Linked DNA regions of Homo sapiens: region 2 is linked to region 1. Evidence: fine-mapped expression QTL. Tissue or cell type: whole blood. Region 1 holds a variant in brackets; the other region holds the start of a gene. All regions are shown on one strand. Distances are from middle to middle.

Region 1 (8,059 bases):
AACTGCTTTTGCATATTCAACCCCCTGGGGGGGAAGGGGTAGGTGCTGACTGGGCACTTGTTTCTGTTTCCCAAGGGGAGCATGGCCTTGGCCCCTACCAGTATTCTGGGGGTTAGCCCTGAAACTCTGAGGCCTGGGTGCAGGTAAGGAGAAGCTGGGCTGGTTGGGGAGAGGCCGCCCTGTGGCTCTTGGCCTGGCCTCCATGTTACTTCTTCTCCTTCTTGCCCGACTTCTTCTTGTTGCCATTGCCACCTGCTGGGGCCTTGCCATCCCGCTTGCCAGCTGCGTTGGTCAGTGTGGCATTGCTGCCTGGGATGTAGACATTCTGGCGGTAGTCGGGCACGTGCTGCAGGGTGAACTGGGGTCCGTAGCGGGCGCTCAATCCCATGGTGCCGGCACCCCCTCCCAGGGTGGAGCTCCCATCAGCAGCTTCTGCAGAGACAGAGGAAGATCAGGTGGGAGCTAAACTTAGGGTCCTCAACAGTCACTGTCTTATATCCCCAGCAGTTAATGAATGCCTATACAGCACCCTGGGCCTTGACCACGCTGAGCACTGGGAATATAGGGGTCACCAAGGTAGTCTCTCTTCACAAGAGTTGAGGGTAGAGGTTAAGAGGCTCTGGAGTGAGAAAGTCTAGGTTTGATTCCTAGCTCCTTTCCTTACTCACTGTGATCCTGGGCAAGTCTACCTAACCTCCTTATGCCACTTCAGTTTTCTCATCTGCAAAATGGGGATGATAATGGTAACCACCTCTTCTGGTTTTAGTGAATGCTAAATAAGAAAATGTATGTCAGGTACGTAAAATAGTGCCTGGTAGATGTAAGTGCTCAAAACACATTCGCTGGTATTTCTCTCAGGGCTGTGACACGGGCTCTCAGTTCCTTGCCCTGGCTTTCTCAAGGGAGCCTCTGACTCCCACACTAGACCATGGGCTCCTGGAGGGCAGCAGCCATGAAACCATGGCTTTACATGCCCCTAGCCTTTGCCAAGCAAGGCCTGGCACGAGTAGAGATTCGGTAGTTCCGTTAGTAAGTGTGTGGGGTGGGGGTGAAGAGTGCTCTTCCAAGCCTCCATTTCAAAACAGCATTTTTTTTTTTTTTTTTTTAAGATGGAGTCCTGCTCTGTCGCCCAGCCTGGAGTGCAGTGGCGCGATCCCGGCTCACTGCAACCTCTGCCTCCTGGGCTCAAGTGATTCTCCTGCCTCAACCTCCTGAGTAGCTGAGATTACAGGTGCACACCACTAGCCCAGCTAATTTTTGTATTTCAAAACAGCATTTGAGCACCTACTGTGTGCCAGGCACTCTGCTGGATGCTTCACATGCACAATCACTTTTAACCTCTACATAACAGCCCAGCCAGCTATGTGGTATGACCCTCATTTTACAGATGAGGGAACCAAGTGTTAGAAGGACCAAGGCCATACCCGGTAGCATTTGTTAGAGGGGCATTCAGGCCCAAGTGTACCTAAGCGCATGCTGGAAGGGACAGTCAGTCACCATCACCACCAGCAGCTTGGACCTTATCCCTGTTCTGAGTGAATGGGAGGTAGAGAGAAGATGGAGAAGAGCTCGGCTCTATGAAGCTGAGGAGATGATGATCTCGGGGACTAGACATCTCAGGGACACTTTAGGCACAGGCTCAGAGTGCCACAGCTAGGTGACATCAGACAGCACCTCCAGTCCAACGTCCCACTGTACAGAAGAAGAAACTGGGGCCCAGAGAAGTCCACACTCTGGCCCTGGCTCAGCATCACCCAGGAACTTGTTTAGAATGCAGCCTCTCGGAATTGCCAGCTGATTTGTACGCACTGTGAAGGCTGCTGTGAGGACTAAATGAGATGGTGCTTCATCCTGTGCAATACATCATCAACACCGTCACATCCAGCATGCCATCACCTCTACCCCTCACCTGCCCTGACTGGGTCGGGGGTGGGAGAGGAGGAAACAAGAGTTTGACTCATTGGGGCTCGCTGCTGGAGGCCCTGAGATCCTCTGTGGTTAGGAGACAGTTAAAACCTCAGGGATGCCCAGGCCAGCCCAGGCCCAGCTGGCAGTAGAGCTTCTCTCCCAGCCTCCCTCTGCCTCCACCCTGGACCCTGGGAGCGGGTAGCGAGAGTGACTAAAGCCGGAGAGGCTGAGTAATCCTGGGACATCAACCAGGGATTGAGAAATAGAGAGACAGGAAATATTTTCAAGCCGGCATAAGAGGAGGAGGGCACACGGGAGGGGAGAGCCGGGATGCGCCTCGGTTTTTCTCTTCACGCACCAGCGCTCAGGTTTCTACAGCCCCCATTTCATGTCGCAAATCCCCGGAGCTGAGAGCTTTCTGGGGGCGGGGGAGAGGGGTTGAGTGGGAGGGAGCAGCTGCCCACTTCCTCCTCTCCTACCCCAGCTGGCCCCCACCCCCAGCCCTTTCATTCCGCTGACATTTCTCTGTTTTCCCTAATTAACTCCAAAAGGAAGCCAGATCCGCCACCGCCCCGCCCCCTCCCCTCCAGCCGTCAGCCTCTTCAGCCTTTCCCAGCCTGGGAATGGAAGGGGTAGGGGAGGGGGGCCCAGATCTGGCTTCAAAGAGCCAGGATTCCAGAGTGATTTAGGGGCTAGAGGGGGGACCTCAGAGGCGCCAGAGAAAGAGCGGGGTGGGGGGTGTAGTCTCCCTGCACACAGAAAAGAATGAGGAGGAACACGGAGAAGCAGGGAGAAGGGAGGCAGAGACAGAATGACAGGAAGGGCCTGACGGAGTAGCTAGAAGCTCGGCCCACCCACGTCCTATGTGCACCCAAGATCTCTGAGTAGCACCCCGAGTGGGTGCAAGTGACAAAGCCATCCCCCGCCCACCTCGTGGGGGGTGCCCTGAGGTTGGGCTGGACCAGGAGGGAGAGAAGATATGGAAATCCAGAATGTAAAAGAAAGAGAATATTTGCTCTGCTCTGCCACTAAGGAACTGTGTGAGCTTGGTCAAGTCTCTGCGTGGCTCAAGCCTGTTTTCCCATCTATAAATCTGAGGGGAAGAAGTTGGATTGCCAGCTTTGACTTTCTGTAGAGTCAGTTCTCCAGTGCCCCTCCCTCTACACCCCACTCCCCCCAAGGCCCACCTTGGTCAAGGACCGGGATTTTCTCTTGGTCCCAGGAGAGGCAGACTTAGGAGAGCCTCAAGAAGCTGGACATCTTCTGGCCTGGACGAGGTGGGGGTGATGCCTTCTCTCCTGTGCCAGCCTCTACTCAGGGAAACTCAGCCCCCAGCTCCCTGACCTCCCTCTGTCCTCTTAACCTACCCCATCCCAGGGCCAAGGCAGCAACTCCAGAGTAGCCCAAGGAGGCTGATTAGCTGGAACACAGCTGGCTGAGCTGCAAACCGCAGCCTCCTTGAGAGCATCCCTCCCCGCAGATGTTTATTTTAAAAGCCTCCTCCCAAGTGTCGGTTTTTACTCTCCCTCTTACTTAACCCCTCTCAGCAGCCCCACAGGCCTGGCTGGGCTGGACTTCAGGAACCTCTCTGGTTTCAGGGCTAGGAAGCGGGTGTGAAAGTGAGAGCAGGGCCTGACCCACCACCTCCACCCCCAGGGTCCGTTCCCCAGGGCGCAGGCTTAGACGAGGGTCAGGCCCTGTGTGGGCCAAAGGTGGGAGGCCTTGACAGGGGAACGAGCTGCATGACTTGCTTGGAGGGTTTGGGGCCATAAATACTGATTTCATTTCTG[T/G]TTTTAACATCTGGATTTAGGCTAAAAAGCTGCTTCCTGGCCTCAGGGCGCAAGGCCACAACAGCTAAATATACCTGTTTATTTCCCTCAAGAGGCCAACTTGGCATCTCCTCAGACCCAGCCGCCTGCCACTTTCATACTCAGTCTCTGGCCTCTCTGGAATCATAGCCCCACCAGACCTGGGACAGCTCTGCCTCAGGAGGCCAGCAGTCCCTGCCACCTCTCTCTCTGTCCTTCCGTCAGCTGTAGGCCTGGCCCCACTTAACCTCACAGACATCTGGGGTAGAGTTGCCAGATTTAGTAAATAAAAGTACAGGGCTCCCAGTTAAATTTGAATTTCAGGTAAACAATGAGCATTTTTTTTTTTAGTACATTATGTCTCATGCAACATTTGAGACTGACTTATGCTGAAATAGTACTTGCTGTTTATCTGACATTCAACTGTAACTGGGCATCCTGTATTTTATCTGGCAACCCTGATCTGGAAGAATAAAGCAGAGCTCGAGGAAGAGGACAGCCTCTCATCCTGCTCAGGTAATAGAGAAGCCGAGGCTGGATCCAAAGGCAGCCATGGTCCCTATAGTAGAAAGAGCATAAACTTAGGAGTTGAGCCAGGTTAGAACCTCAGCTTGGCAGCTCAAAACTGAGGACCCTGGGGCAAGTGCCTTCTCGGTTCTCTCATCTGTCGAGTGTGAGAAATCAGACCTGCCTTGCAGAGCTATTGAGAGGATTCATTGACAGGAGGCCCCTAAAGTTTGTTTAGTATGTGCCCAGGTGTGATGACAGTGCTTCTTGTGATTTCACCTGGTTCTCTACCCACCAGTCCTCCAGACATGCTGGAGGGCAGGGCTATCAGTTCATGATATAGGGCAATGCCTTGATCCTCTGCCAGCCTCCTTATAAGCCCAGGATTTGCTGCTCCAGAAGCTAGTCTTTATTAATAGGCATTATTCTAATTCTGCTTTCTACCCAGTAAAAAACGGGTTTGGGTCAGCAAAGATAATAATATATTGTGCCCTTACTCTCTGCCAATCCTGTGCTGAGGGACTTGCATTTGGCCCTGGTAACACCACAATGAGATCCGTTAATACTGTGCCCATTAATAGTAAGTGAAACCGAGGGGGTTTAATAACTTACCTAAGGACTCATTGCTAAGTGGTGGTGCCAGGTGCCAGGATTTGAATCCAGATTGGCCTGCCTCTAAAGCCTGTGCTCTTTTTTTTTTTTTTTTTTTTTGAGACAGAGCGAGACTGTTGCCCAGGCTGGAGTGCAGTGGTGCGATTTTCTGCTCACCACAGCCACCTCCCAGGTTCAAGCGATTCTCCTGCCTCAGCCTCCCAAGTAGCTGGGACTACAGGCACGCACCACCATGCCCAGCTAATTTTTGTATTTTTAGTAGAGACAGGGTTTCACTATGTTGGCCAGGCCGGTTTCGAACTCCTGACCTCATGATCCTCCTGCCTCAGCTTCCCAAAGTGCTGGGATTACAGGCGTGAGCCACCACGCCCAGCTTAGGCTGTGCTCTTAAGGACAAATGATATTCTTCTTCTCCTGCTCTGGGCCCTAGTGACTCTTCAGGGACAACCACCACTAGCCGAATCTCTATTACAAAGGAAGCCCTTAGTCAACCTTATGGGAAAACCAGAATCCTACTCTGGAGTTAGGGGCAGCAAAAGAGGAGCCTCGCATAAAGAGGAGGTGTTCTCTCGGCTGGGGATTTCTACACCCACTTTCATTGCTTGAGGGCTTCCAAGCGCCAGGCCCAGAACTCTATGCTTTGTGGTATCATCTCATTTAATCTCTACAACAACCCTTTGGGGTCCCTGTCCCCACTTTCTAGGCTGAGGAAACTGAGGTTTAGAGAGATTGAGCAAGTCGATCCAAGTCCCAAGGATAGTAGCAGAGCTAGGACCTGAGCTACACTGTCCCATTCCAGAGCTAGACTTGTAACCACTATTCCCTCCATGAGTCTTTTCCTTGTTCGCTCTCCTCCAGGCATCCCAGGACCCCCAACCCCTCTGCTGTTCCTTAGCCACAATTCCAGGCTTTATGTTTGGAATTGTGGGTCCTTTCAGACCTGCCGAAAGATCTGGAGAAACTACACAGGTTTGACATCCAGTCCGTGGGCATGGTGGCTGTGAGATGCACCCCAGAACCCCAGGTCTCCCACTCTTCCATACACACACTGACACCACTTACCACTGGCGGACGCCAAGATCATGGCTTGCAGCATCTCTGTGTCAAACTGGTTGTTGGGCCAGGTGCCGGTGTCATCGCCATTTTGGGAGCTGGGGAGAGAGTAGGATGGTGAGCACAGACTCCCAGGCCGGCACAGCTCATGCCCCTCCTGTCCTCTCCCAGGGCTCCCAAACCTAGTACCCTAACCCTACCCCATGCCCAAGACCTGTTTCTCTCAGCAAGGTAGGAGGCACTTCTACAATCCTTCAGAAGCCAGAATCCCACAAGTCAGTCCCTCAAACCAGCTCTTTGCTGCCTCCGATGCTTTTTTCTTTTTGTTTTAGACAGGGTCTTACTCTGTCATCCAGGCTGGAGTGCAGTGGCGCGATCTTGGCTCATTGCAACATCCACCTCCTGGGTTCAAGCGATTCTCCTGCCTCAGTCTCCCAAGTAGCTGGGATGACAGGCACCTGCCACTGTGCCAGGCTAATTTTTGTATTTTTAGTACAGACGGGGTTTCACCATGTTGGCCAGGCTGGTCCAATGCATTGAACATAGTGCATTCCCCCACCCACCATGAGAGAGCCTGGCTTCCTGTCATAGTGAGGGAGATCAGACCTTCTCCAGAGGACTGTGAAGGTGGGAAATGGAAGAGAATGTTCCAGAGCTAGAGAAAAAGTGGGGACCTAGGAGGTACCTAGGGGGAGATGTAGGAGGCCCCAAGAGACCCTGGAGCAGGGAGAAGAAATTTCTAAAATTCAATGGCTTCCTAAGCCCTCAGAGTAAAATCCACGGCCATAGAAGAACCTGCCCCTCCTATTTTACAAGAACCCCCACCCCCCGCCCTCAAACACTCTATCATCAAACCTTTTCCAAGGTGCACTTTCCTATCCCTCAAGTTCCCTCTTGCTGTGAATCCTGGGCAGATGGTGTTCCCTAGAATGCCAGTCCCCCAACATTTGCCATGATGACACGAATAAAATATATCAGAGGAGATCCACTCAGACTGGGCAGGTGCCTCCACTGTACTCCCATCCCAGCGGCTGCCCCACATGGCACTAGTCACACTGCAGCTGTTGTAGTGCCTGTCTGTTCCTCCACCACACTGGCTTCTGTGAGGCAGCGACTCCACCTGCTTCCTACTGAAGCACCTAGCACAAAGCCTAGCACTTGGACCTAAGTGAGACTTTTAGAAACTCCGAGTGTTGAAAAAACATGAAATGATTCATAATTTAAAAAAATACTAAACCATAAGAAGAACTCTCTGCTTCTTAGAAGGTTCAGCTCTACTTGGAATTTTCCCACAGTGACAATTTTCATGATTTTTTTGAATTTCCAAGGATGAAATTATTTCAATTTGCAGGGGAGTGTTGGCGGGAAACAGCCCTGGCACACACACAGTCTGCCCTTTAGGTAACTGTTTGGCACCATCTGGCTCAGAGAAGTTTTTCAATAAATATTTGTTGCCTAAATGAGTGGGAAGAGACCAGCAGAGACAGTTAAGTGACTGTAAGGTAAGAAGAAGGGTTTGGCACCATGGGAAAGGCTGTAGGGTAGGCCTTGAAGGCATGAAAATGTCTGTGTGTGTGTTGCGTTGTGTGTGTGCATATTTTGTCATGGTGGGTGAGCACAACCAAGAACTGCTTTACAATTTTTCCAAGGTCTGTCCCTGCTTTTGGTTTTGCCCAATCTGGGATTCCCCGTCCCTAAGTAGATGAACTCAGCCTAAGAACAGACACAAGGCTGCCATGTGTGACCTCTATACCATCACAACAAACATAAAGCTAGGGTTGAAGGGGAAAGCAGGAATCTCAATTCTCCTTCCCAAAAGTGGGAAGAGTTGTAATTCTGTTTCCATTGATTCAATAATTATTTCTTTTCTTTTTTCTTTTTTTTTTTTTTTTGAGCTGGAGTCTCGCTCTGTCACCCAGGCTGGAGTACAGTGGCGCGATCTCGGCTCACTGCAACCTCTGCCTCCCAGGTTCAAGTGATTCTCCTGCCTCAGCCTCTTGAGCAGCTGGGACGACAAGTGCACACATGCCACCATGCCCAGCGAATTTTTGTATTTTTAGTAGAGATGGGGTTTCACCATATTGGCCAGGTTGGTTTCGAACTCCTGACCTCATGATCCACCTGCCTCCGCTTCCCAAAGTGCTGGAATTACAGGCGTGAGCCACCGCGCC
Region 2 (8,059 bases), 31 kb after region 1:
CCAGAAGAGCGGCAGTTATTTCTTGCTGGCTTTCATGCTTTCTTAGCCTTTTCATATGTGCTTCTACTTTGTCATTTTTGGTTGTTCTCATATGTGTATTTCTAAGGTGTGTTTGAGATTTTAGGTGAGTGAGGAACTAATAAAAATAATTATAGTAATAGCTGATAATTTTTTTTTTTGAGACAGGGTCTCACTCTATTGCCATGGTTGAAGTGTAGTGGTGCAATCACAGCTGACTGTAGCTTCAACCTCCCAGGCTCAAGCAATTCTCCCACTTCAGCCTCCCAAGTAGCTGGTACCACAGGTGCATGCCAACACACCCAGCTAATGAAAACACATTTTTTTTTTTTTTTGTAGAGACAGGATCTCACTATGTCGCTCAGGCTGGTCTTGAACTGCTGGCCTCAAGCAATCCGCCTGCCTCAGCCTCCCAAAATGCTAGGAGCTGGCTAATAATTGTTTAACAGTTATGATATGCCAGGCACCATGCTAAACACTTTGCATACATTATATCATGCATGAATCTTATAAAACACTTATTATTCCCTTTTTGCATATGAGGAAGAGGCTTAGAAAGGAGATTGAGTAACTTGGCCACAGACTCCTAGTTGGTAAATGGTAGAACCTCATTTGACTAACTGCCAAATCCAAGAGTTGATAGCAATGATGCACTGAGTAACAAAATAACAGTGTTTCTCCTACAGTTGAGAGTATGTATAGGGTTCTCTCCAGGGCAAAGGCCTTGCAGTCACCTTGCATGGATACCATGCCTTGGATAGTATCCTTGCATACCACCCTGAATTAATGAATGCTTTACCTGTCTAAGGATATGAATTTATCTACCTTTCACATTGTGCATATACTTAAGAAAAATAAGGCTGGAAGGACAGGGACTAACACTGGAGGCACCAAAAAGACTCTCCTTTTGTAGTTTCTGGGATTGTTGTTGTTGTTGTTGTTATTGTTAAAGAGACATGGTTTCCCTATATTGCCTAGGCTGGAGTGCAGTGGCTATTCACAGATGTCATCCCACTACTGGATAGCACAGCAGTTTTGACCTTCTCCACTTCCAACCTGGGCCAGTTCACCCCTCTTTAGGCAACCTGATGGTCCTGCCCTCCCAAGAGGTCACTGTATTCATGCTGAACTTAGTGCAGACAGTGGATTGATCAATTGATCAGCATAGTGCACCACAGCCCAGAACTCCTGGGCTCAAGCAATCCTCCCACCTCAGGCACTGAGCAGCAAGAACTACAGGTGCACACCACTGAGTCTGGCTACTTTATGTTTTCTTGGGTTGCCTAGATTTATTTTTGAAATAAATTATTACTTTTATAATTAAAAATGGTTATCTTTGGGTTTGGAGATTATAGTTTTAATTTTTTAAATACTTTTCTGTATTTTCTGAATTTTCTAGCAAACATGCATTACTGTTATAAGGTAAAAATATTTTGTAAGCAGGGTGCACATCATTTCCAGTAGAATGCTTGAAATAAAATTTAAAGGATGCCTGGAATTTCATTTCATTCATAAAAAATTATCTGAGAATGAGGTACACGATCTGTATAAACAAAGGAAAATTATCAAAAAGCTATTAGTTTTAATACAAATGTCACAATCACTTGAAAGGTGGAGGAATGAGGTAGTTTTTGTATTCCTAGAAGCTGCCACTGGTTAGAGGTATCCAGCAGCTTATTCCTAATGTAAATGATACCAAGCTAAACTCTGATCGCTGAGATCTTGTGTTTTAGCTTAACCATCCCTTAGCAAGATTGGTTAGTTGTGATAGCAAAAGAGTGCTGAGGATGTGAATTAGGTCCACAGATGAGTCAAGTATCTTCCCCCTGAAATGGGACCACAAACCACACTCTGGCAGGCCACCATCTCACAAAGGCACTAACTTTGATCTAGGAAGGGCCAGTTGAAAGTGTGAATGCATCACCAGGAAAACATCTTCATCACTAAAAAAACAGCTCCATTCCTTCCTCAATATGATGTAGGAATAAAAAAGCACTAACAGGGTCAAGCATGACTTGCTAAACCTTACCTGTCCGGGAGGGGCGCTCTCTGCACCCAACACCTGCCTATAGAACACCGGATCACAGCTCCGCAGCGTGTTCTGGCGGCTGGCCAGTGGACTGGCTGCACCAGGTTTCTTCAGCAGCGGGTCGCTGCGGCGGGAGTCCGTGGTGAGATACACCTGATGGTAAAGGTGCGGCGACATCAGGCCTCCCCGCACGGCGTCCGCGTGCAAGGAGGGCCCTGGTGTTCGGTACAGTGAGCTCACCGGGGCTCGGTATAGGTCTCTAGACTGCTTCCACTTGTAAACTTTGAATATGATTACTCCGAACACTGTGACCACAAACCCCACAGAAACCAGGATTAGAGAAAGAAGTAGATAAAAGGTGAGATTTTTTTTCTGCTCCCGGGGGGCAGAGCCAGAGGGGAACTCGGCTCGGGCTTCAGGAGAGTCCTCGGTTACTGACACAGTGAGGGTAGCAGTGGTGGAGAGCGAAGGCTCCCCATTGTCTTTGATCAAGACCGTGAGAGTCTGCCTGGGTGAATCTGTGTCTTGGACTGGACGGGCAGTACTGATTTGACCAGTGTGCAGCCCTATGGCAAAAAGGCTCTGGTTAGGGGATCCCAAGAGACTGTAGGAGAGCCAGGCATTGTGCCCTGCATCCGCGTCCCAGCCTACCACCCGTGACACTAGGTGGCCAGCTGAGGTACCTCGAGGCAGCATCTCCACCGAGCTCCCACCTGGCCGAGGATATAGGACCTGGGGGGCATTGTCATTGCGATCAGTGACAAATATGTTCACGCTGATGTTGGTGGCTAGGACCGGGGTGCCCCCATCGCTGATATGAGCTGTTAATTCAAATTCCCGCCGATCCTCATAGTCTAGGGGCACTAAGGATGACACTATGCCATTGTCACGATTTATTGTGAAATAGCGACCCACTAGCCCGGTTTCAGCTCCTTGCTCCAAGAGAAAGAAAGAAAGCCGAGCATTCTGCGGGGCGTCGGGGTCCCAGACACTTAGGTTTAGTATTGGAGCCCCGGGGAGGTTGTTTTCTTCAATGTAAACGTCGTAGGAAGATTGAGAAGATTGTGGAGGGTTGTCATTGATGTCGGACACTTGAACACGCACTATTGTAAGGGCTGAGAGGGAAGGGGTTCCGGCGTCTCGGGCGGTGATGCTGAGGTTGTATTCTGGCACAGTCTCCCGATCCAGGTCTGCACTGGTTTTCAAAGTGAAGTAATTCTTGAGGGAAGAAGTAAGGCTGAAAGGGAGACCCGGTGGAACTTCGCAGGTCACCAGCCCGTTCTCGCCAGCATCCAGGTCAGTCACACTGAGCAAAGCGATGACAGTCCCCAGAGGGGCATCCTCGGGTACTGGGCTGTACACGGAGGTGACTGTGATCTCCGGGGCGTTGTCATTCACATCCACAACCTCCACCAACACTTTGCAATGTGCTCCTTCGGGATTGGCGCCCTTGTCTTTGGCCTGGATGTAAATCTCATGGAGTTTGGTGTCCTCGAAGTCCAGCCGACCCTTGATTGTCAGCATCCCGGTTACAAGGTCTAAGGCGAATAGTTGCCGCACGCCGGCGCGGTTGTGGCTGCCGAAGGAGTAAATAATTTCACCGTTGGGGCCTTCATCCAGATCCGTTGCAAGGACTTGTACCACGCGCGTGCCGGAGGGTGCATCCTCCAGGACGCGCGCCCGGTACAAGGACTGGTTGAAGACAGGCGCATTGTCATTCGCGTCCAGCACCTTGATGTGAATAGGCAGGCTGGCGGAGAGAGCTGGGGTCCCTCCGTCCAACGCCGTCAGCACTAACTGGAGACTAGGCTCCCGTTCTCGGTCCAGGGCGCGCTCCAACACCAGCTCCGCGTACTTGGTGCTGTCCTCCCGCGTCTGCACGCGAAGCGCAAAGTATTCATTTCGGCTCAGCTCATAGGTTTGTAAAGAGTTGCTTCCCACATCGGGATCGTGCGCGCTCTCGAGCGGAAAGCGCGTCCCCGGAGCCACGGCCTCGCTAATCTCCAATTTCATTTCCTGGGTAGGGAAAGCAGGATTGTTGTCGTTGATGTCCTGGATCACCACTTCCACGCTGAACAGCTCCAGCGGGTTCTCCACTACCAACTCCAGAGTTACAGTGCAAGAGGGCAGTGTCCCACACAGCTCCTCTCGATCCAGACGGTCGTTCACAAACATCTCTCCGGTCTCCCGGTTCACCTCAAAGAATCTTCGGCTAGCTCCAGACACCACCCGGAACCTGCGGGCTGAGAGGCTACCGAGATCCAAACCAAGGTTCGCGACCACGTTGCCCACAGCGAAACCCTTCTCTCTTTCCTCCGGGATCTCATAGTGAATGACCGTGGAAGCCTTGTTCAAGGCACCAAGCAGAAGCAAAACTCCCACTACCCTCCCGGTGCTTACCAGTCCGCTCCTCCAGGCCTCTGGGACCATCTCACTCAAAAGCAGTTCCTCTCAGCGGGGTCCAGATCGTCCCTGAGATTTCGCTGAGAAACTTTCAGCGGGTTAGCGCTTGGGCGCTGGGCGCCGAGTCCGACATGGCTTTCTGGATGCCGTTGATTTGCTCGCCGGCTGTTCAGTCTCTGCCTCATCCCGGGGCGCAGAAAGGGGACGGGCAGGGGCCCGATCTCCAGCGTCTTCATTGGCCGACAGCGGCACACAGAGTCCCAGCCAATAACTGCACGAAGAATGAGCTAGCGCCGGGCTCTCTGAGCAGGACACGCGCTAGCGCCAGGAACTTCACTTTCCTTTGGCTTCCTTCCAGAGTTTCCAGCCAAAGCGCCTTGCCAGTATCGGTGCATAGGAAACCTACCTTAGGGAAAGCCAGCCTTGGGGCTGTGAGGCTAGCCGTTCTGCAAGTCTCCAATCCAAATCAAGACTCATTAAACATTTGAATCACTTTCTTTGATCACAAGAAAGGGGATCGAACCAAACCGAAAACTACACAACATTGTCTGGAAAAACACCAACAAATCTGGCTTGTTGGAAGACAGACAATTAGCCGGACCCTACTTGTAAGGAGGCATTTAGCATTTCCGTGGAGACATTAATAATTTCAGTTTTATCTCTTACCAAATGAAATTAGCATTCCCTGTCACTTCCTCATTATCTGGAGCTACTATCAAATTAGCAGGAGTTACAATCTATTGGTTTAACTCTGGCTTATAAAATTTAAAAGTACAATTCAGATTTTATTTCTTTTAAAACTGGATGTCATTGTTAGCTCTCATTTCTTAAGAACCAGGGAGCAATAAGAAATTTCCCTACCCTGTCTTTCACAAGGAGCATGATCTCAGTTGTAGAGCACACTCTCTCTATCGTTTCCCTTTACTTGATCAATCCTTTTCCCAAGATCTTGGGTACCATATGCCACAAGAAGTTGCACTGCTAATGAAGAAGAAGACGGAGAAGATTTCAAAAAGAAAAAAAGCCAGGCCTATTTACCACCTAGGATCTTTATAAAATTATTGAAATAATGGCAGCAAAGCTCCACAAATCTTTAGAAAATACAAAGCCTTTAGTCACAGAATAAAGAGCCTTAACTTTTCTGCATTTAGAATTGTTGTCACCAAACAAAATTATAATGATTAGGATAGTGAATAAAAGAGTCCACTGTGATATAAGCCAGAGATGAGATGTATATCCTTGAACAAGAAATGAACCTCTAAGAGTTCCTGCTCCTATCCTATTAAATGAAGAAGGCAGGTAAAGTGCCTGGCACAGAGTAAGCCTCAATTAATGATGCAAACCACTCCATTAGATGTAAAGTGTTAGAGCCTCATACTATTTCTGTATATTTGTCTTGGACATCACTTTGATTGCATAGAGTCCTTTTGAAGTATAATAGAACCTTGAACATAAGTGAAGGGGTAGGCACATAGGTTAGGTAGGTAGAAAAGAAGTAAGGATATATAGGATATTTCCGGAAGAGATGAAAAGCCATATGTGACCTATATTTCCATGTCTTTAACACTTCAATTAATCTCTGAAAACCCCCAGTTTTAAATGCTCAAGTTTGATAATTAGCCAGACCAGCAAGAGGGCTGATAGGCATTAGAAGATAGAATACATTTAGAATTTAGAATAAAGAGTATAGCCCAATCACTTGCTACTCAAAGTGTGAGGACCAATGGTCTAGGCATCACCGGGGAGCTTGTTAGAAATGCAGAAATGCCCTCCTCTAGACCTACTGAGACATGACTTACATTTTAACAAAACATCAGGGTGATTTGAAAACACATTAAAGTTTGACAAGCACTGATCTAGTGGGTTATTCAGAGATACACTGGTTTATCAGTCTTTTTTTCCCCTATTCAGCATCACTTAATTCACAATCTGGTTTTTGAAAATCAGCTTTTAAAAATGTAAGTAGTTTTCTCAATAATAAGGCCTGTCATTTTCTTGATAATAAGGCCTGTAGTTTTCTGAGATTTTCGTTGTTGTTGTTTTTGTTGTTGTTTGTTTTTTGGTTTTTGTTTCTGAGGCAGGATCTCGCTCTGTCATCCAGGCTGGAGTACAGTGGAATAATCATAGCTCACTGTAACTTCCAGCTCCTTGGGCTCAAGGGATCCTCCCGCCTCAGACTTCTAAGTAGATGGGACTACAGGCCTGAGCTACTGCACCCAGCTCATAGTTTTCTTAAGACCTCTTCATGAACCAACAGAACCCTTGTGTATGCATTCTCCACAATAGCGAGGTTCATCTTCCTAAAATTTTAATTGGATCACACAATTGTCCAGCTGCTCCTCAGTAGCATCATACTGCTCTTGAATTAAAATACCAAATCCTTTGCATAGTATCCAAGTTCTCATGTCTTCTCCCTCTCTCACTATATTCCATTGCACCACTTGGAGGGTGGTCAGAACCCCAGCCCTTCCCTGTCTCAGGGCCTTCACACAAATTGTTCCTTTGCCAGGAAAGCTGCTTTTTCCTCCCTCCCTTTGCTTTGCTAATTTCTACAGGTCTGTCTGGTCTTAGTTTAAATGTTATTTCCTAATAGAGGTCTTCCATTAGGCCCCAGTTAAAACCAGGATCCTTTGTTATGCTCTCTCAGAACACCTTATATTTTTTCCATTGAACTTGGCACAACTTTAAATTTTATAATTATTTTTGCATAAGCAAAGTATCTGCTTCCCCCACTGAAGAAGAAAAAAAGAAGCTCCAGGAGGGCAGGGACCATGCTATTTTGGTGGCCACTTGCATCCTCACTGTCTAGCACAGCAGGCACTTAATGCTTATTAATATAGCAATCTTTATGCTACTGACATAGTAAAATAATCATAGCATACACTAAGGACTATATATGTATTCACTTGTGTGGATCCAATCTCCCTGGAAGTAAGCATTTTTTAGAAGATACATTTACTCCTTCAAGTTACCAGTGGGCCTTCCTAGCCCTAGTGATCTGAAGAGATAATATAGTTTGCCAAAGAGCCAAGTAAAGTGTGGTAATACAACTCACAGTGGATAATAAACAAAGATGCTGTAACTTGTTGTATCACTTCTTTCTTTCTTTCCTTCCTTCCTTCCTTCTTTCTTTTTCTTTTTCTTTCTTTTTTTTTTTTTTTTTGAGTTTCACTCTTGTTCCCCAGGCTGGAGTGCAATGGCATAATCTTGGCTCACCACAACCTCCTCCTCTTGGGTTCAAGCAATTCTCCTGCCTCAGCCTCCCGAGTAGCTGGGAATACAGGCATGTGCCACCATGCCCAGCTAATTTTCTATTTTTAGTAGAGACGGGGGTTTCTCCATGTTGGTCAGGCTGATCTTGAACTCCCAACCTCAGGTGATCTGCCAGCCTCCGCCTCCCAAAGTGCTGGGATTACAGGTGTGAGCCACAGCGCCTGGCCTGTATCACTTATTTCTAGGGGAAATGGAAGGACCAGTATACAGGATTTATATACTGATTCAACACAATTTCCCAGTCTTTATCTTTTTTCTTCTTTGTTTTATAATTTCAAGAGAGCTTCTGACCAATGAGATGCAGCATTTATAATATAATTTTTTTTTTCTTGAGAT

What was found. PIP is the estimated chance that this variant, and not a neighbour inherited with it, causes the effect.
Region 2: PCDHGC3 starts here. The variant in region 1 is fine-mapped to the expression of PCDHGC3 in whole blood (TOPMed, PIP above 0.99). The same link has a PIP of 0.9 or more in blood mononuclear cells.

What each region holds. Positions count from the first base shown.
Region 1 is chr5:141,503,320-141,511,378 of GRCh38, reverse strand. It overlaps PCDHGA1 (protocadherin gamma subfamily A, 1), which reads right to left. Exons shown (of 4, transcript NM_018912.3): 3 at 5,898-5,986; 4 at 1-432. The coding sequence ends at 206. PCDHGA2 (protocadherin gamma subfamily A, 2) reads right to left here. Exons shown (of 4, transcript NM_018915.4): 3 at 5,898-5,986; 4 at 1-432. The coding sequence ends at 206. PCDHGA3 (protocadherin gamma subfamily A, 3) reads right to left here. Exons shown (of 4, transcript NM_018916.4): 3 at 5,898-5,986; 4 at 1-432. The coding sequence ends at 206. It overlaps PCDHGB1 (protocadherin gamma subfamily B, 1), which reads right to left. Exons shown (of 4, transcript NM_018922.3): 3 at 5,898-5,986; 4 at 1-432. The coding sequence ends at 206. It also overlaps PCDHGA4, PCDHGB2, PCDHGA5, PCDHGB3, PCDHGA6 and PCDHGA7, and 13 more genes. Among named protein-coding and RNA genes, the nearest start is that of PCDHGC5, 18 kb to the right of the region's middle. RefSeq lists enhancers at 84-193, 774-863, 2,174-2,223, 2,038-2,538, 3,394-3,443 and 1 more. The variant T/G (reference allele first, on the strand shown) is at 3,699.
Region 2 is chr5:141,472,535-141,480,593 of GRCh38, reverse strand. PCDHGC3 (protocadherin gamma subfamily C, 3) reads right to left here and starts at 4,628. Exons shown (of 4, transcript NM_002588.4): 1 at 2,048-4,628. The coding sequence starts at 4,477. All of the region lies in intron 1 of PCDHGA1 (protocadherin gamma subfamily A, 1), which reads right to left. All of the region lies in intron 1 of PCDHGA2 (protocadherin gamma subfamily A, 2), which reads right to left. All of the region lies in intron 1 of PCDHGA3 (protocadherin gamma subfamily A, 3), which reads right to left. It also overlaps PCDHGB1, PCDHGA4, PCDHGB2, PCDHGA5, PCDHGB3 and PCDHGA6, and 12 more genes. RefSeq lists enhancers at 3,778-4,321, 4,779-4,888.